3 linked regions of the Homo sapiens genome follow. The protein of the gene in region 3 purifies or fractionates together with the protein of the main gene of each other region. This does not show direct contact. Each region holds a gene or a part of one and is shown on either strand. Other genes may lie near its edges.

Evidence for each region.
Region 1: the proteins of LBHD1 (region 3) and STRADA purify together in Homo sapiens (affinity purification with mass spectrometry; 2 studies listed by BioGRID and IntAct, with this or other methods). This does not show direct contact.
Region 2: the proteins of LBHD1 (region 3) and FBXO11 purify together in Homo sapiens (affinity purification with mass spectrometry; 2 studies listed by BioGRID and IntAct, with this or other methods). This does not show direct contact.

Annotation. Positions count from the first base shown.
Region 1 is NC_000017.11:63,724,800-63,731,826, forward strand, and holds part of STRADA (STE20-related kinase adapter protein alpha), read right to left. Parts: intron 3,615-7,027; 5' UTR 3,571-3,614; coding exon 3,535-3,570; intron 1,897-3,534; coding exon 1,839-1,896; intron 1-1,838. UniProt on the Homo sapiens protein: Pseudokinase which, in complex with CAB39/MO25 (CAB39/MO25alpha or CAB39L/MO25beta), binds to and activates STK11/LKB1.
Region 2 is NC_000002.12:47,806,420-47,812,525, reverse strand, and holds the end of FBXO11 (F-box only protein 11), read left to right. Parts: intron 1-2,099; coding exon 2,100-2,210; intron 2,211-2,424; exon of another isoform or gene 2,425-2,527; intron 2,528-2,818; coding exon 2,819-2,926; intron 2,927-3,259; coding exon 3,260-3,368; intron 3,369-3,939; exon of another isoform or gene 3,940-4,003; intron 4,004-4,098; coding exon 4,099-4,197; coding exon of another isoform or gene 4,198-4,278; coding exon 4,279-4,408; 3' UTR 4,409-5,606; downstream 5,607-6,106. Other genes in the region: DNA mismatch repair protein Msh6, read right to left, coding at 5,666-5,747, 5,875-6,074. UniProt on the Homo sapiens protein: Substrate recognition component of a SCF (SKP1-CUL1-F-box protein) E3 ubiquitin-protein ligase complex which mediates the ubiquitination and subsequent proteasomal degradation of target proteins, such as DTL/CDT2, BCL6, SNAI1 and PRDM1/BLIMP1.
Region 3 is NC_000011.10:62,662,317-62,669,294, reverse strand, and holds the end of LBHD1 (LBH domain-containing protein 1), read left to right. Parts: intron 1-1,186; exon of another isoform or gene 1,187-1,547; coding exon 1,548-1,772; exon of another isoform or gene 1,773-2,243; coding exon of another isoform or gene 2,244-2,899; intron 2,900-3,348; coding exon of another isoform or gene 3,349-3,784; exon of another isoform or gene 3,785-3,983; intron 3,984-4,078; exon of another isoform or gene 4,079-4,125; coding exon of another isoform or gene 4,126-4,164; exon of another isoform or gene 4,165-4,321; coding exon 4,322-4,446; intron 4,447-5,961; coding exon 5,962-6,059; intron 6,060-6,135; coding exon 6,136-6,166; coding exon of another isoform or gene 6,167-6,245; 3' UTR 6,246-6,478; downstream 6,479-6,978. Other genes in the region: CSKMT (citrate synthase-lysine N-methyltransferase CSKMT, mitochondrial), read right to left, coding at 2,244-2,899, 3,349-3,784; uncharacterized protein C11orf98, read left to right, coding at 4,126-4,164, 4,322-4,446, 5,962-6,059, 6,136-6,245.

The DNA of each region.
Region 1 (7,027 bases), on a different chromosome or scaffold from region 3:
TCCTTTCCTTTACTGTGCATCTAACTAATTCTTTCCAACTAAAATATAAAGAACTCATCATTATTCTAAACTCCCATTTATCTAAAACATAATACTTTGACAAAGTTCACAGATATCACTAGTCCAGAAATTCTTTGAGATGTGTTAGGGAAAATAATAGGTACCACCTAGTAACTAACAAGTTTGAGTTTTCAATTACTTAAACCTATCCCTGACCTTGTGATCCGCCCGCCTGGGCCTCCCAAAGTGAAACCCTGTCTCTACTAAAAATACAAAAAAAATTTAGCCGGGCATGGTGGTGTGATCCTGTAATCCCAGCTACTCAGGAGGGCTGAGGCAGGAGAATCTCTTGAACCCGGGAGGCGGAGTTTGCAGTGAGCCGAGATCGTGCCACTGCACTCCAGCTTGAGCGACAGAGCGAGACTCTGTCTCAAAACAAAACAACAACAAAATAAAACAAGACCAAAAAAACCTATCTGGGCGTATTTTGGATCAGCTAACCAATGTACTCAATCTGATAATCTGTTTTTTAAATTTCCTTCTTATTTTATTTTTTGAGACGGAGTCTCAAAAACTCAGCCTTGCTCTGTCGCCCAGGCTGGAGTGCAATGGCGTGATCTTGGCTCACTGCAACCTCCACCTCGCGAGTTCAAGCCATTCTCCTGCTTCAGTCTCCCTAGCAGCTGGGACCACAGGTGTGCATCACCATGCCCGGCTAATTTTTGTATTTTTAGTAGAGATGTGGTTTCACCACGTTGGCCAGCCTGGTCTTGAACTCCTGACCTCAGGTGATCCGCCTGCCTCGGCCTCCCAAAGTGCTGGGATTACAGGCGTGAGCCACCGTGCCCGGCCGATAATCTGTTTCTTTCTTTCCTTTTTTTTTTCTTTGAGACGGAGTCTAGCTCTGTTTCCCAGGCTGGAGTGCAGTGGCGCGATCTCCGCTCATTGCAAGCTCCGCCTCCTGGGTTCACGCCATTCTCCTGTCTCAGCCTCTGGAGTAGCTGGGATTACAGGCACCCACCACCACGCCCGGCTAATTTTTTTGTATTTTTAGTAGAGACGGAGTTTCACCATGTTAGCCAAGATGGTCTCGATCTCCTGATCTCGTAATCTGCCCACCTCGGCCTCCCAATGTGCTGGGATTACAGGCGTGAGCCACCATACCCGGCCGGTAATCTGTTTCTTAAACTATAGGATCCTAAAAGAGTATCTTAGAATTCAGACACAAAGAATGGGGCTCTACTATTATTTTTATTGAAAATAATTTTTGTTGCCCTAAATTAAGATGACAGTTCCCAAAAAGGCTCACTTTGAAAATGGCCAAAGGGTAATGCCTAGGCCTGTCAAAGTTTACTTCTGAAATCAACAGTCAGGTTTTACAATAGGAAGTTCATATTTTTGTTCTGAAAGATTTTTCCTTAGTTCTCTTAAATCTCATAATTTCTACCATGAAAAAATGAGTCAACTAGATTCATCAATAAAACCAGAACTTTCATATCATTGCTTCCTTTGTCTTGACAATTATTTTTTAAATCAAGGCTACAGACTTTTAAATAGTTTTCTTCCTTTAAAAATATGTATTTCACCTGGACAAAAGAAAACATATATGCTTTTAAGTAAATACTGGCTTTCTAACAATCAAGACAGGCCAAGGAAAATTGCCATGTTAGTCTTCAAATCTTTGGGAAACCATAAATTCAAAAAGGAACCAAAGAAATCCAACAACTGTAGGTTACACTTGCCCTTAGAATTGCCAATTGCTATAGATTGATTTAGTCAACAAAAAAGTAGTGATTTTTATATCCTGAAGTGATGGCTAAATGCCATACTGTACTTACCTCCAAATAGTTCCAAATCTCTTAAGCCCTCAACAATGAACTTTTCCGAGACCCACCGCTAAAGAGGAAAACCCCAAAGAGAATTAGTATTTCTTCCAAGCCGCAACAAATTAGCTATCAGCCTTTAGACAGACAAACAAAATCCCAACTATGAAAACAGAATCATGCAGTACAGTTAGGAATCATTTCTATGGAAAAGTTTTTAACAGAATCTTGAACTAAAAACAAGATTCCTTTCTCCACTCCTCTTTGCCTATTTGATGAATAATTCTTAAATTTGACAGATGAGAAATAGATAGTACTGGCTGTAATAATGAAGACTGTTTTTGCCTTCCCTATATTGGTTCCATCTTACTCGTTCTACATTACAGATGCCTTGGATCACTGATGTCAATTTGAAAACTATTACTGGAATTCATAACACAGAAAACAGAGATGAAACAGTAGTTATTCACAAGACCCTGTTAGTTTGTAAAATGGCACACAACAAGTTGCATATTCTTTATCCACTAGGGGTTCTAAAGACATGGCTGCTTACATTTTCTGCCAAGTTCACAAGGGCCAAACTAGTAAGACCAAACTAGCAGGATCAATCTATGGCTCACTTTACTGGCCTATTTCAAACGAGTATTAGATTTCTGTCATTCTGATCAGTGGTTTCGTTTCACCTGAATTAGGCTACGTTGAAGCAGACAAGGAGCTCATATTTAAAAGCAATGGAATCAAGATTGTATTTCCCTTAAGGACTGGTGTTACACTTTGGCTTGGGGGCATTCTTTCCACTGGGCAGAGTTCAGGCTATGGAGAGATTCCTTTTTTCCTCTTAATTAACAGTGAAGTTTACTCTTTCTAATATAAATTGTTCTTATATGCATAAACATTAGAAAAAAGATTAAGTAACATTCAGAAATAAGTTGCATGATACAGACTGTGAATTGGAACTATAGCATCTTCTGCCCTTACCTATAACTATTTTTTCCAAATCAAAAAAGAAGTAATATCCTAAATTGAAAACTTCATAAAAATTATATGCACTGCATCAAAAAACATAAATTATGCTTTAATATGTAAAGAAAGTGGTATACTCATAATATCTCATAGCACTTATACACTGTTACAAAATTCTAAAATAATTACAACTGCATTTAGAAATTAGGTACTTGATAATAAAGAAAATAAGAAACTCATGAAATAATGGGAATTTGTAAAGAAGCTAAATCTAGTATTGTTTTTGAAATCATTTTATCTGACGAAGTTTTGAAGTATAATAAAATCTTTCATGTTCAAAATGTCTTCAATTAAAACTAATGATATTACTTAGAAAAAAGTGTCCTAGTAATTACAACTTGATTTTGAAAACTCACAACCTCACGGGGGGTCATAAGCAGTTAAACGTCTACACTTAAAAGTATCATCGACTCATTTAATGTTGTATGACTGATATTCATGAAATAAGCCACTTTCTTCTTATTTCTTCTCTATCAGACAAGCTGGTGGTAAATTTTGTGTCTCTGGTCAGCCTCTGTCTGCAAACTCTTCTCAGGAGTGGAGGCTGCACTACCTGCCTTACTTCCTACATCCCTCACTTCCGTATCATTCCGACCCTCACGTAGAAAACCACCTACAACATCTGCCAAAATACACTGCTTTTCAGAAAACAAAAATAGTAAAGCCAGAAGAATAGAAAAACACTCACCCTGATTCGCTCTGGTTTACTTACAAGAAATGACATGAGTTCCTACTGTGTAGGCCTACTTCAGTTTCAAAAACTTAAACCTAAAAGGAAAATAGAAACAGGTTGAGTTAGCAAAAATCTCCTTATAGAGAAATATCTTCTGATTAACAAAAACTTATTACAGGTCTACCATTCAAAGCACTGGACTTCACCTATAAATTGCTAGATTTGTTTAGAGAAACTTTAAGTGATGATAAATCTGAATATACTTTGGCCAAGTACATTATAAAATTCTGTAATTTCTGGCCAGATGTGGTGGTTCACGTCTGTAATCCCAGCACTTTGGGAGGCCGAGGCGGGCGGATCACCTGAGGTCAGGAGTTCGAGACCAGCCTGGCCAACATGGTGAAACCCCATCTCTATAAAAAAAAAAAAAAAAAAAAAAAAAGCCAGGCAAGGTGGCAGATGGCTGTAATCCCACCTACTTAAGAATCGTTTGAACCCAGGAGATGGAGATTGCAGTGAGCCAAGATCACGCCATTGCATTCCAGCCTGGGTGACAGAGTGAGACTGTCTCAAAAAAAAAAAAAATTTTAATTAATTAATTTCTGTAGAAAGAGAAATTTGTCATTATATGGTTTTAAATTAATTCCTAAATTTCTCTTGACTTAATCCCCCACTAACCTTTTCCCAGAAGCAATTACCTTCAGTTATTTTCCATGGTTATCCTGCTTTTTATTTATTTACTTCTTATAGAGACAGGGTCTCTCTATGTGGCCCAGGCTGGTCTGGAACTCCTGGACTCAAGCGATCCTCCCATCTTGGCCTCCCAAAGTGTGGGGGTTACCACGTGAGCCACCATGCACAGTGTTATCCTGCTTTTTAATAATTATTCTTAAACAATGTTTATATGGGTATGACTTAATTTTAGACTTTTAAAATTTTCTTTACTGCTCCTTGCAGAGCAGGGCTAACTCATAGACAATGTACCCAGAGTCAGCCAGTTTTAACTTCCTACTATGGTAGATGAAGATGAAGCTTCTTATAGCATCATCTTCCACTGTATCTCCTGCTCTCATTCTACCAACATAGCTCTGGCATAATTTGGTTAAATCAATAGTCCACATTTATATTATTATGACTATGCAAATATGGTTCAGAGCTGAGGCAAATAGAAATAACTATGTCTCAGCCAGGCCTGGTGGCTCAAGCCTGTAATCCCAGCACTTTGGGAGGCTGAGGTGGGTGGATCACTTGAGGTCAGGAGTTCGAGACTAGCCTGACCAACATGGTAAAACCCTGTCTCTACTAAAAATACACAAAAAAATTAGCCAGGCATGGTGACAGGCACCTATAGTCCCAGCTACTCAGGAGGCTGAGAAAGAAGAATTGCTTGAACCCAGGAGGCAGAGGTTGCAGTGAGCCAAGGTCGCGCCACTGCACTCCAGCCTGGGTGACAGAGCTAGACTCCATCTCAAAACAAACCAAAAAAAACAACAAAAAAAAAACCATGTCTCTTTTCCTTTTCCTTTTTTTTTTTTTGAGATGGAGTTTCACTCTTGTTGCCCAGGCTGAAGTGCAGTTGCACGATCTTGACTCACTGCAACCTCCGCCTCCCAGGTTCAAGTGATTCTCCTGCCCCAGCCTCCAGAGTAGCTGGGATAACAGGTGCCTGCCACCATGCCTGGCTAATTTTTGTATTTAGTAGAGATGGCGTTTCACCATGTTGGCCAGGCTAGTCTCGAACTCCTGACTTCAGATGATCCACCCGCCTCGGCCTCCCAAAGTGCTGGGATTATAGGCATGAGCCACTGTGCCCAGACAATGTCTCTCTTTCCTTATACACCTATTTTTTCCTAGAGTTAATAACTGCCTCATTTGTTCACTTGCTTGGTTTCCCATATAGCTATTATTAACTTTTTACAAACACGCCAACATCTCTGCTATTTGCCTTATCAATGTATTTTTCCATACCCTCAAACCCATCAATTAGAATTTTCTCCTGGAAGTTGCCTTCATAGGGCCCTCCGGTCTCCTGCTACAATCTGGACTAACTGCTTTTTAGGCCAGTTGCACTTAGTTGACTTTTTTTTTTTTTTTTGAGGCGGGGTCTGGCTCTGTCATCCAGTCTGGAGTGCAGTGATGTGATCTCTGCTCACTGCAACCTCTGCCTCCAGGGCTCCAACCATCCTCCCACCTCAGCCTCCTGAGTAGCTGGAACTACAGGTACATGCCATCATGCCTAATTTTTGTATTTTTTGTAGAGACGGGCTTTGCATTGTTGCCCAGGCTGGAGTGTGGTGGCGCGATCCTGGCTCACTGCAACCTCTGCCTCCCAGGTTCAAGTGATTCTCTGGCTTCAGCCTCCCGAGTTACTGGGACTATAGGTACGCGCACCACTACACCTGGCTAATTTTTTTGTATTTTTAGTAGAGACAGGGTTTCACTATGTTGGCCAGGCTGGTCTCGAACCCTTGATCTCAGGTGATCCACCCACCTTAGGCTCCCAAAGTGTTGGGATTACAGGTGCGAGCCACTGCGCCTGGTCTCAAGCTCTTGAGCTCAAGCAATTGTCTGCCTCAGCCTCCCAAAGTGCTAGGATTACAGGTGTGAGCCACTGCGCCTGGCCCTACCCTGATATTCTTTTTTTTTGAGATGGAGTCTCGCTCTGTTGCCAGGCTGGAGTGCAGCGGTGATCTTGGCTCACTGCAACCTCCGACTCCCAGGTTCCAGCGATTCTCCTGCCTCAGCCTCCTGAGTAGCTGGGACTACAGGCGTGCGCCACCACACCCTGCTAAGTTTTGTATTTTTAATAGAGACGGGGTTCCACCATGTTGGCCAGGATGGTCTCGATCTCCTGACCTCGTGATCTGCCCGCCTCGGGCCTTCCAAAGTGCTGGGATTACAGGCGTGACTCACTGCACCTGGCCCTGATATTCTTTCCTTTTTTTTTTTTTTTTTTTTTTTCTGAGACGGAGTCTTGCCATGTCACCAGGCTGGAGTGCAGTGGCGTGATCTCAGCTCACTGCAACCTCCGCCTCCTGGGTTCAAGTGATTCCCCTGCCTCAGCCACCCCAGTAGCTGGGATTACAGGCATGCGCTACCACACCCAGCTAATTTTTTGTATTTTTTTAGTAGAGGCGGGGTTTCACCATGTTGGCCAAGATGATCTCGATCTCCTGACCTCGTGATCCGTCCGCCTTGGCCTCCCAAAGTGCTGGGATTACAGGCATGAGCCACCGCGCCTGGCCGGCCCTGATATTCTTATAGAAGCTCCTTTTCCAACCCCAGCTGAGAATCACTCATTTATCTTGTCACAAAATTTTAAAAATATAGATTTGAAAAAACATGATTAGAATGCATATTTAATAGTATTAAACACAAAGCATCATGCAAAAGAAATTTAAGAGGAAAAAAGGTCCATATCCTCATGTAGTCTACAATAGAAAGAGAAAATTAGTGTAAAGAGGCAGATAGATGTTTTTATCTGCAAAAAAAGTTTCTATGGTCTGGA
Region 2 (6,106 bases), on a different chromosome or scaffold from region 3:
CTAGTAATTCAGTAAAGTGACGTATCTCAGATAGTTTTCACAAAATATAGTGAAGACACACAATACAGAATGGTTTATTTGCAAGGTGTTGAGAAATGGTTCACGCAAGTCAAATCACTTTTGAGCCGTGTTTTGAAAAATGAGTAGATATTTACTGGCAATTGGGTTTGGGAGAGGCGAACAGACCATTCCAGATGTTATTTCACTTTTATTCTTTAGATACTGATTTAACACCTCTGTACCAACTACTATGATACAGATGCTAGAGATATGCTAAATGAAACAGCACATCCATAAAATGTATAGTGTGATGGAGTGGAGCACATCGTAAACAAAAGTCTAGAGGAAACTGAAAGTAAGGGAAGAGGTACAGAAAATTGAGGCTACAGAAGGGGCAAGGCCCAAATCATGAGGTTTTCCATATGCAGTAAGGAGTTTGGAATCCATCTTAGCAATAGCACTTGAGGTGTAGTGGAAATAATCAAGATTAGAGACAGGGACTTGGAATAACTCAGGCAATAAATAATGAGAGCCTAAACTAAAATGATAGCATAAGGGTGTGAAAAGGTTGGGGGGGCAGGGGGTGGGACATGTTAATGATACTTAAAAGGACAGAACCAACTGGGCACAGTGGCTCACACCTGTACTTCCAGCTGCTCTGGAGGCTAAGGCAGGAGTATCACTTGAGTCTGGAGTTGGAAACCAGCCTAGGCAATGTAGTAAGACCGTATCTCTATAAAAAGGGTGGAACCAACAGGACTGGGTCATTGATTTAATATGGGGGTTGAAAGTAAAGTGAAATATGATGGGTGCTCAGGATTCTGATTTGGGTGGGTGACTACCTTTCACTGAGGTAAGTTATATAGGAAATGGTTTCTGGAAAACATTAGTAAGGTCAGTTTTTAAACACTGAATCCAAGGTTGTCTTCTGGAATATCCAAATTGGTTATGACCAGAATGTGATTCATTATACTAAGCTAAAGGAATAGATTAAAGAATTAGCAACAGTGGCCGGGTGCAGTGGCTCATGCCTGTAACCCCAGCACTTTGGGGGAGGCCCAGGTGGGTGGATCATTTGAGGTCAGGAGTTTGAGACCAGCCTGGCCAACATGGTGAAACCTAAAAATACAAAAATTAGCCAGGTGTGGTGGCAGGTGCTTGTAATCCCAGCTGCTTGGGAGGCTGAAGCAGGAGAATTGCTTGAACCCGGAGGCAGGGGTTGCAGTGAGCCAAGATCACACCATTGCACTCCAGCCTGGGTGGCAGAGTGAGACTCTGTCTCAAAAATTAAAAAGCAACAGTGTATATGCAATAGTTGCAAGATGTAAGATCACCCAAAGAGTATGCAGAGGGAAATGAGGGACAGAACCCAGAAATATTAATACCCAGGGAGTGAACAGGAGGAGGACCCCAAGAAGTTACTGAGTCAGATTTTTCCCACTCATCCAGGTGAAAGTTTAGGTCAATAATGTGAAATACCAGAGGGATTAAATGTCTACAGAAATAAAACCATGTCTCACATTAAGACAAACAAGTAGGTTGGAGGGATATTTTGAAAGGCAAGGTGATATTAAACTTTATTCTGAAAGTAGTTTGTTAGAGAAAGAGGCATGATAAGAGTTGCAGTTAACTGATTGGAAACTATGCAGCAGATGAAACTGGAATAAAGGAAACTCATCAGGAAATGATTATAGTAATAAGGGCCAGAAATAAGGGCTTGCTTGCCTGAACTAAAAACAAAGAGGATACAAAGGTTCTAGAAATATTTCAAAGGAATTAGCTTTAATTCAGCAATACTCATTGAGAATCACCTATGCACCTGGCTCTGAAGATGAAGTGCTGAGTAAACTTAGACATGGACCCTGCTATCATGGAGATGGCAGATTATTGGTCAGAATGCTCTTACCTGTCATTGTAGCAATTTTGTTAGATCCTTAATACCTCTGAATTGCTAATAAACTTGTTTTGGCTGAAAAAATAGTCCTGTGAATTTTACCATGCAGTTAAATAAGAAACTAAAAGCAAACCTAAATACCACCAAAAAGGTTAGTAGTCTGTTATATGCATTAGCCTTAATCTAAGGAAATATTTTATTATAGGTCTCCTTGAAGAAAATGATATTTTCAGGAATGCTCAAGCAGGTGTTCTCATCAGCACTAATAGTCATCCAATCTTAAGGAAAAACAGAATATTTGATGGATTTGCCGCAGGTTTGTATTTTCTTTTCTTACCTGTGGCTTATATATAGTTCTGCAAAGTGTTTGATGTGGAGTATATTCATTTTGTTTTGCTTATTAACTAAAATGTGCAAAGTGTGCTGAAGTGGCTGAATGCCTGTTCATTCACTTACAAGAGCACCTAATCAAGTTCTGGATTCTTCTACTCTAAGCCAGACTCCTAAGAAATATTGCTCTTATTGCTTAGTCGTGATTATGAAACATTTATTGGGATAGAATAAATGCAGGCTTGTATTACCACTAGGAATACAGATAGATTCAATTCCTCAGATGAATTTACCAGTTTAAATCTGCAACAGAAAAAGAGATGTTAAAATGGATGCAAATGAAATCCAAGTATCATGTATTTAAACTTTAAGACAGTTAGGTTGGTGCGAAAGTTAATTGCAGTTTTGACCATAGTCATTGATAAGTGAATGTTACTGTTGGTGGTTGAAATAGGTATCTACATTTTATTCAGTAGACATTAAGAGGGTTAATGTACTTCTATAAAAGAAGCAGTTTACATTTGCTTGCTAATTTCAGGTTTTTAAGAAGCAGTATAAAGTGATGTATCTACTTGTTTGTAAATTTTACTTCAGGTATTGAAATTACAAATCACGCAACTGCAACACTAGAAGGCAATCAGATTTTTAACAACCGGTTTGGAGGCTTATTTTTAGCATCTGGTGTTAATGTGACAATGAAAGGTATGTTGGAGTCTGCTATACCTATAAATATATGCAATATGCCATGAAAGATAATCAGAAGCCGTTTTATAACTTGATTCCTTATGTCACTCTCCAAGTTAGCAACAGTTTAAGATAGATTTTGAAAGAAACAGAGCTTTGGTTCTAAATGGTTGGAGTATCTTATACAAGGAAAATTCTATTCTTAGCTGATTTCTTACAATTACTTCATTGGTTAGCTTCATTTAAAGCTCTTAAAAATAGTGGCTCTTCTGTTAGAATAATCCTATAATCTTTGGTTTTTAAAATATTAACATTCCTCTGAATTTTTACTTATTCTTTCTTTTATTACAGATAACAAAATAATGAACAATCAAGATGCCATAGAAAAGGCTGTTAGTAGAGGCCAATGTTTATATAAAATATCAAGTTATACCAGCTATCCCATGCATGATTTCTACAGGTAACTTAGAAATATATTTGAGTCCTGAAAAGAGGAAGACTGATTTCCTTTTTAAATTAGCAATGCCTAGCATTTTTGGCTATTTGCCGGTGTTGAGACTATAACTAACTGAAAATTTTATCATCAATCTACTTGAAGATCGTGTTTAAGACTGTAACTGTGGGTAGGCGTGGTGGCTTATGCCTGTAATCCTAGCACTTTGGGAGGCTGAAGTGGGAGGATCACTGGAGCCCAGGAGTTCTAAACCAGCCTGGGCAACATAGGGAGACCCTGTCTCTACAAAACAAAACAAAGACCATAACTATGGAAAAACCTAATGCTACAGTAACTGATGTCATTCATGTAACTCATGTTGTGTAATGTTTTCCTAGAAATTTCAAGGTAAAGATGTCGGGGTTAAGTGTTTGATATATCCCAGTCACTGTGACAGTTTTGACTCTTCACGCCTCCAAAAATTGTTTTCAGCCCAGAAACATTTGAGAGGCTTTTAAAGTGGAAAGAACTGCCTTTATACAATTTACAAATCATTTCTCTTCCCTCCGAAGACACAGATGACAGGAAAATCACTTACTCCATTAAAGTTCCTTTTCAGAATTAATCTGGGCTGGAGCCACAAAGAATTTTGTTTTGGTCCTCTTAAAGCCAAAGGTCATAGTAATATATAAACAGAATGGAATGTTTTGCATTAATGACATGTTTGAGAAAAGTAATTTAAGCTTTTGCTTTTTAGATGTCATACTTGTAACACCACAGATCGAAATGCCATATGTGTGAACTGCATTAAGAAGTGCCATCAGGGACATGATGTAGAGTTTATTAGACATGATAGGTATGTAGCACACTTGCTTGATATATTACCCAATTACTTTCCCCCTCACTTTTCTAATATTTGGGTTTCATTTTGCTTTAGGTTTTTCTGTGACTGTGGTGCTGGAACACTGTCTAATCCTTGTACATTAGCTGGTGAGCCTACACATGATACAGATACACTATATGACTCTGCTCCACCTATAGAATCTAATACATTGCAGCACAACTGAATTCCTTCCCTAAAGAAAAAGTCCTGCCATTGTAACATCATAACTTAAAACACTTTTTTGGAAGAAGATTTAAAATATTTGCCCATGCTACAGGAAGAGACTGTATTAAAAATGGATACACAAGGTCAGTTGACACTATGAAGCTCAAGCTACCAAAAAGAAAGTGGCAATATATTGACTCAGGATCTCAAAGCTGGGTGTTTTAGCATTACTGTGTAAAGACTTGAAGGGACAGAAGTGAAGAAAATAAGCTGCAATTTTGTACAGATACCAACTTCTGAAAAGCTGGTGTTTTTACAACTAGCATTGAATGCAGTCCAATTTGCAGTAGTAATCTTCAATAGACAAGCAGCTTTGTTGCTGCCTTTATGGACATGGGTACCAATTGCTTTTGTAATATGGTAAAAATGTGAGCTAGCACTTCTGCGTTCCTTTTGATTTTTTTTTTTTAACATGTATTCAGATTGAGAAATATGATTTTAATGCTTTAATCTCATGTAGTTTGTTTTTAATTTCAAGCAAAATCTTACTGTACTTGAATGTGCCCTGTTTTGTTAGCACACCTAGACTTGCTGTAACTGTACTCATGTCCCAGTATGTACGTTCTTTCTATGAAAGAGAAAACACTAATCTTAAATTATATCCAGCAATGTTTCTGGTATCCTTTAAGAAAAGTTAAGACTATTATTTCCTTCCCTTCCCTGTGCAGCATTCAAAATCACCCCTAGAAAAAGTGAGTGTTTTAATGAGACTTCCTAGGAAGGGATGCACTGTAAAACAAAAGTATTCTTGTAACTCAGTTTTGTGAAAGGTAAAAAACTACTATGTTTTAAGTACACTTTAGAAAGTCTCTTCAAAACAAACAGTCCTGTATTTGAACTCTGTTCATAGTTTTTTTTTGAACAGTTTAGACAAAACTGCTGGAAATTAAACCAATTTCCTGCATTAAGCTGAGACAAGTATATATACAGCCCTATACAGTTTCATAGCTTTTCCTCCCCCATTTATGTGTATTGGTGACAGTGGGTATAAAACAGCCTGAAAGTGTATGCATGTACCATAACATCTAGACTTAATATATTGTGGAGTATTCAATAACCATTATGTAGAAGGTAGATAAGAATTAAAAGGGTTTAATTTCCTAGAAAGAAAATGGAAAAATGGTCATTTTTAAAAAATAAAGTTTATTAGATCATAATGTTGTCTGAATTTACCACCTTTGTCAGAAGTCAACTCAAAGCTTCCAATGTAGTCAGTCTATAATTCCTTAATCAAAGTCAGCAATTTATGGACAGCTTCAGCATCTACAGTTGACCTTTCACTAGCCAGGCAAACTTCCCTTAAAATTAAAAAAAAAAAAAAAAAAGTTTTTTTGTTTTTTCATAGTGCATCATCCCTTCCCCTTTTACTGTTTCTTTGAAACTTAAGGTCAGTTAGTTATAATTCCATTATAGTTAGTTAGTTACCGAAATAATCGTAGTGACTGATTCATCTTCTCAAATTCTCTTGCTTTTCTATGTCCCTTTTGAATAACTTCCTCTGGGAGATTAGCAAGCCTTGCTGCATTAAAGCCATAGCTTTTAGGACAAGCTCCCTTAATGAATTTATAGAGGAACGTAATAGTCTCCTGGCTGGGGTCTTCACATTCATTTTCTACCATGCATGCCTTAAGAAAGAAAAATATTAGCGATACATGTG
Region 3 (6,978 bases):
CTCCCAAGCCGGCCAGTCTTGGGGTAATTTTATCTTTTCCTGCAGCAATGTAAACATTTTGAAAGTACAGATTAAGGCTGGCCGCGGTGGCTCACGCCTGTAATCCCAGCACTTTGGGAGGCTGAGGCGGGCAGATCACAAGGTCAGGAGATCGAGACCATCCTGGCTAACATGGTGAAACCCCGTCTCTACTAAAAATACAAAAAATTAGCCGGGCGTGGTGGCGGGCGCCTGTAGTCCCAGCTACTCGGGAGGCAGGAGAATGGCGTGAACCCGGGATGTGGAGTTTGCAGTAAGCTGAGATCCCACCACTGCACTCCAGCCTGGGCAAGAGCCAGATTCTGCCTCAAAAAAAACAAAAAACAAAAAAAATTACCCCAAGACCAACTACCTAAAAATAGTTTACATATTCGATACCTTCTCTTCTAGACTTTTTTCATCTCTGTGTACTGTTTTTTTGTTTGTTTGTTTTGGTTTTGGTTTTTTTTTTTGAGACAGAGTCTTGCTCTGTCCCCCAGGCTGGAGTGCAGTGGCAATGACCTCTGCTCACTGCAAGCCCTGCCTCCTGGGTTCGTGCCATTCTCCTGCCTCAGCCTCCCGAGTAGCTGGGACTACAGGCACCCGCCACCACGCCCAGCTAATTTTTTTGTATTTTTAGTAGAGACAGGGTTTCACTTTGTTCGCCAGGATCTCCTTACCTTGTGATCCGCCTGCCTGGGCCTCTCAAAGTGCTGGGATTACAGGCGTGAGCCACCGCGCCCGGCCCCGTCTGTGTACTGTTACAGAAGCTACTTTTTTTTTTTTTTTTTTTTTTGAGACAGAGTCACCCTCTGTTGCCCAGGCGGAGTGCAGTGGCAGGATCTCGGCTTACTGCAACCTCTGCCTCCCAGGTCCAAGCAAGTCTCCTGCCTCAGCCTCCTGAGTAGCTGGGGCTACAGGTTCAGGCCACCACGCCCGACTAATTTTTTTTGTATTTTAGTAGAGATGGGGTTTCACCATATTGCCCAGGCTGGTCTCAAACTCCTGAGCTCAGGCAATCTGCCCGCCTCAGCCTCCCAAGAAGCTACATTCTTTTGAGCATTTACTATGTACCAGGTACTATGCTAAACACTTTTACTTCATGATTTTCAGAACAACCCAATGAAGGTACTTCCCCTTTATAAATGAGAAAATTGAGGCTGCGAGGTTAGGCTCTTAGTGATATAATTGCTCTATTTTTTTATAAGCAAAAAATACCACAGAAATTAATTTTTAGCTCAAGTGCAGCAGCTTATCATGGCCCATTGCAGCTTTGACCTCCCAGGGTTCAAGCAGTCCTCCCAGCTCAGCCTCCTGAGTAGTTGGAACTACATGCCTGTGCCACTATCCCGGGCTCATTTGTTTTTGTAGAGTTAGGGGTGTCACTTTATTGCCAGGGCTCAAGCAATCTGCCCACCTTGGCCTCCCAAAGTGCTGTGATTATAGGTATGAGCCAGCATGCCTGGCCTAGTTTTGTAATTTGATAATATATCAGTAATATTTTTGTCCCCTCTCTTCCTCCATCCCAGGCTGGGCTTGGAGCCCACAGGACCCTAGAAGTCCTTTAAGAACATTTAACGCTGGACTCAGCTGGGGGCAGGACCAGGATGAAGAAGATGCTTGTTGGATTCTTGAGGACACAGCATGTCTGGAAGCCACCAACCACTGTCCCTTCTGGGACTCAACAGGCTCCCGTGTTTGTAGAAGTGGCTTTGTGGAATATTCCCATCTCCTGCCTCCTAATAGCTTTGAGGGTAAGTATTGTTCCCTCCCCCTCAAATATCTCATCCAGGTTTATGAAGCTCCTTATACCCATCCTCTTACAATCTCCTTTTACAGGTGACAAAAATGAGGCTTACAGGTTAGGCCACTAGATTATACAAGTCAGTCAGCGCAGGGGTTTTGATTCAGTTCCTGTCTGCTGCTTTTAGGAGCTCCAGTTAGTTGAAACTGGGGAATGACCCAATTGTACCTTCTCTTTTCAGCATTCATTTTGTGCTAAATATTGCGCACATCATTGTATGTAATCTCCGTAACTCCAAGTTATTCTCACTCTGCAGATGAGTAAACTGGGGAACAGAAACATTCAGCAATATGGCACCCAGCTAGTAAATGTGGAAGCCAGGACTCAAATTCTCACTTTGCAGCCAGATAGCTTGCAAAGACAGTTCTTCAGCCCTCTCCTTGCCCACAGAAATACTAGGGTCAGGACTACTAAAATGTCTTTAATGAGAGCCTTGAATCAAGTAAGCAAAGTAGGTGATGCCCCTGAACGGGCCTAGCTCCTGCACAGTCACAGTCCAGCCATAGGACCCTTGTTCCAGGCAGGGCAGTCGCACATCAGGGTCCTCATCTGAGAACTGAATCAGGGTCCCCTGAGGGTTTAGAACCCTCAAGCATTCTGATAGAAGCTGGTAAGCCCTAGGCAGACCTCCCCGGGCAACAGCATCCCATGTGCCTTTGTCCAGCAGTAGTTGGAAAGAGCCTGAAGAAGCCACAGCCCCCAGGTTCTGAGCATCGGCGTGCATGAAGTGGAGGCTTGAGGCAGGGTGTCCAGGGCATAGAGGTGTTTGGCCTGGGCCACCCTCCAGGAGGCTATTCATGTGGGCCACAGCCACAGGAGAAAAGTCCACCCCCAGCACATCCACTGGGTGTGGAGATTTGGTGTAGAGGCCTGTACATAGGCTGGAAGTCCCACAGCCCACATCCAGCACTCGCAGAGGACTGGCAGCCTGTGCCTCCTGCAGCAATGGCAGTAGGAGCCCCTGGACTTCGTCGTATCCAAAGAACCAGTCGAAGGTGGGGACAGTGCCCAAACGAGGCTGGGCATGCAGCCGATCCCAGAGACAGCGGTCCGCCAGGCAACTATCAGCCAGTGAGCCTGTGGGCACGGTTGGAGGGTGTCACTTGGTCTATGTCGCCACTGCAAAAACGTCGTATATACACACTGGCGTCTTTTTTTTTTTTGAGACAGGGTCTCACTCTGTGACCCAGGGTTGAGTACAGTAGCACAATGATGGCTCACTGAAGCCTCCACCTCAGCCTCCTGAGTAGCTAGGACTATAGGCGCCATCGTGCCCGGTTAATTTTTTTTGTAGACAGGGTCTCGCTATGTTGCCCTAGGTTGGTCTCGAACTCCTGGGCCAAGCGATCTGCCCGCCTCGGCCTGGCAAAGTGTTAGCATTACAGCCGTGAGCCACCACGCACGGCCCACCGTAGGGTTTGAGAATCACAATTTCAGGGACTACACTCCTGACTCACGAGGAACCCACCTTACCCTCCCCACTCTGCCCCCACCTTGCCCTCTCCACTCTGCCCCCACCTCCCTACCCGCAAAGGGGCGGCACGTCCCCATCATCAGGCTCGGCAAGTGGAGCATTCGACGCAGCGCGGCCATCTGGAGATTCGGGTAAGTTCGACCAGAGAAGCTTATGTGAAGCGTCCACCCTACTCCAGCCGGAGAGGCCTGAGGTCCAGGGGAAGATCTGCAAATTCCGCGTAGCGAAAGGCGGCGTACAGCTTCCCCGAACTCTGCAGTCCCGGAAAAAAGAACGCGGACACAGACTATGGTAGGAACGGCCTTTATTGGCTGCAGCGGGAAGTGGAGGAGGGTATACAGCGTCCGCAGACCTGAAATCAAATGAGAAAGTGTGAGCACCCCGATGGAGGAGCCAGCTGGATCTCGGTTGTCCTTCTCCGAGATTCCCGGTGTCCCGGCGTTTGAGGATAGAACCAGCGGATGGGAAGCCGCCAGCACCGAAGACATGACGCCGAGGGGGCCAGAGCCCTTTCCCTCTTCCTCCGTACATTACGGGGAGCGGCACCACAAGCCCGATCCCCGCCAAGAAAAGGAGGGTCCTGAGACCCCGCCCAGAGCCTTCCACCCGGCACCCCCACCACTCCCGGCCGCCCAATCTGGCTACTACAGCTAAAACCACACTTACTAGCTCACCACCCTCCGAAAGGCCTCCCGCACCGCGGAGCTCCTTTATATAGCCCGAGGACCCGCCCCCGAGTTGCGATTGGCCCGCGGAAGGCCGGGGCGGAGCCCCGCGGATCCGGCGCTGAGCGGAAGTACGGACCGTGAACTGGAGTGGAATCGCGACTATGGGAGCTCCGGGGGGAAAGATCAACCGGCCCCGAACGGTGACTGTGTGGGGGCCGCGACTTTGTTTCCTCAAGCGTTCCTGAGCCCTTTTATCTCGCACGAGATGGGATCAGTGAGGGGCCGGGGCTGCCTGGTGGAGGGGCCCCGGGTCGCGGCGAGCCCACTCCATCTGATTCGCATCTTTCTCCCCGGCAGGAGCTGAAGAAGAAGCTGTTCAAACGCCGGCGGGTGTTGAATCGGGAGCGGCGTCTGAGGCACCGGGTGGTCGGGGCTGTGATAGACCAAGGGCTGATCACGCGGCACCACCTCAAGAAGCGGGCGTAAGTACTAGACCCTCTTCCTGTTGGTCGTCCCCACCGAGTCTTCCTTCCTCCCTGCAGAGCTCCGGAGCAGCTTCACCTCTCAGCTCACCTTGTGCACTGACGCTTATGCGGGGAATGTCTGTCGGCTGTTAGTTCCTAAGCTCTGATAGCCTCTCACAATACCTGTAGCAGACAACCTTTCTTTGGGTTTTGGATTCTGTTAAGAATCTCAGGAAAGCCGGGGATGGTGGCTCATACCTGTAATCCCAGCACTTTGGGGGGCTGAGGTGGGCGGATCACCTGAGGTCGGGAGTTCGAGACCAGCCTGACCAACATGGTGAAACCCCGTTTTTGCTAAAAATACAAAAATTAGCCAGGCGTTGTGGCCGGCACCTGTAGTCCCAGCTACACGGGAGGCTGAGGCAGGAGAATTGCTTGAACCTGGGAGGCGGAGGTTGCAGTGAGCCGAGATCACGCCACTGCACTCCAGCCTGGGCCACAGAGTGAGACTCCGTCTCAAAAAAAAAAAAAAAAAAAAAAGAATATCAGGAAATCTGTTGGCTCTCCATTCTCCAAGTAATGTTATACATTCACACAGATTTTTATAAGTAAACTTATTTTTACATACAGAAAAGTGCACACATAGGCGCATAAAACTCGAAGAATTTTCCCAAAGGCACTCATAGGATTTCACTTGTAAGTTTCAAGGCCTCCTGTGTCTTGAGGAAGAGTTCCCATCCCATTAATTACTTTCTGTGTCCTTTTTTTTTTTTTTTTTTTTTTTCCTCTTTTTTGAGACAGAGTCTCCCTCTGTTGCCCAGGCTGGAGTGAAGTGGCATGATCTCGGCTCACTGCAACCCCTGCCTCCTGGGTTTAAGCTATTCTCTTGCCTCAGCCTCCCGAGTAGCTGGGATTACAGGTGCTCCCCACTGCACCCGGCTAATTTTTGTATTTTTAGTAGAGACGGGGTTTCACCATGTTGGCCAGGCTGGTCTTGAACTCCTGACCTCAGGTGATCCGCCCACCTCAGCCTCCCAAAGTGTTGGGATTACAGGCATAAGCCACCGCCCCCGATCTATGTCCTTTCATTAGCTTCTTCAATGTAAATATTTAGGGTTTCTATTACTATTTATATTATATTTATTTAATACTTTTCCTTTTTTTTTTTTTTTTGAGACGGAGTCTCGCTTTGTCGCCCAGGCTGGAGTGCAGTGGCGCGATCTCGGCTCACTGCAAGCTCCGCCTTCTGGGTTCACGCCATTCTCCTGCCGCAGCCTCCCGAGTAGCTGGGACTACAGGCGCCCGCCACTGCGCCCAGCTAATGTTTTGTATTTTTAGTAGAGACAGGGTTTCACCGTGGTCTCGATCTCCTGACCTCGTGATCCAGCCGCCTCGGCCTCCCAAAGTGCTGGGATTACAGGCGTGAGCCACTGCGCCCAGCCTATTTAATACTTTTTCTATAGCCAGAACTATTTGTGTGACCTCAGTTGGTTCAGGTTAACCTAGCTCTCTTTATTTCCACTTACCCATCAGGTCCAGTGCACGTGCCAACATTACACTGTCAGGGAAGAAGCGCAGAAAACTCCTCCAGCAGATCCGGCTTGCCCAGAAAGAGAAGACAGCCATGGAAGGTGAGGCTGGGACAGAGGTGGGTGAGGGGAATCCTGGATTTATTTGGGATAATACTTCCTTCTTCCCTTTACTCAGTGGAAGCCCCTTCAAAGCCAGCCAGGACTAGTGAACCACAGCTCAAAAGGCAAAAGAAGACAAAAGCCCCCCAGGATGTAGAAATGAAGGACCTTGAAGATGAGAGCTAAACCTCTTCCACTAGAAGATTCTCAACTGGAGCCAGCCTTCAGACTCAGTGGTTGTTTCAGAGGACTTTGACAAAAGCAAGGCCCCTTTTCACTCTCCAGATTTCCTCCTACCTAATGGCCTACTGACCTCCCCTAGAGGGATGTCTTTGGGAGGGAAGAAGGTACAGAAGAAAGATTGGAGAAGGGCCTCTCTAGCAGTCAACTCCATTTGTAATAAAGCCCTAGCACTCTGAGATGTGTGTGATTAAATGTAGGAATGGGGATGGGTCATGAAAAGATTGGGGAGTATGGAAACAAGACAGTGAGGAAGCAGTACCCACAGCTTCCTTGTGCAAATGCAACAAGATGCCAGCCTCTGCCCTCAAGAGTGGTGGTGCCTGGCCGGGTGCAGTGGCTCACGCCTCTAATGCCAGCACTTTGGGAGGCCGAGGCAGGTGGATCACCTGAGGTCACAAGTTCGAGACCAGCCTGGCTAACCCCGTTTCTACTAAAAATACAAAAAATTAGCCGGGCGTGGTGGTGCACGCCTGTAATCCCAGCTACTTGGAGGCTGAGGCAGGAGAATCGCTTGAACCCGGGAGGCGGAGATTGCCTACCGGGGTATTGCTTGAGGCCAGGAACTCAAGGCTGTAGTGTGCTGTGATCTCATCTGTCTCCTTAGTGAGTGATACTCTAACTTTCCATTTATGACAAAGATACAGATTATTCGAGAAGTTGAAGTTACAGTGAGCCA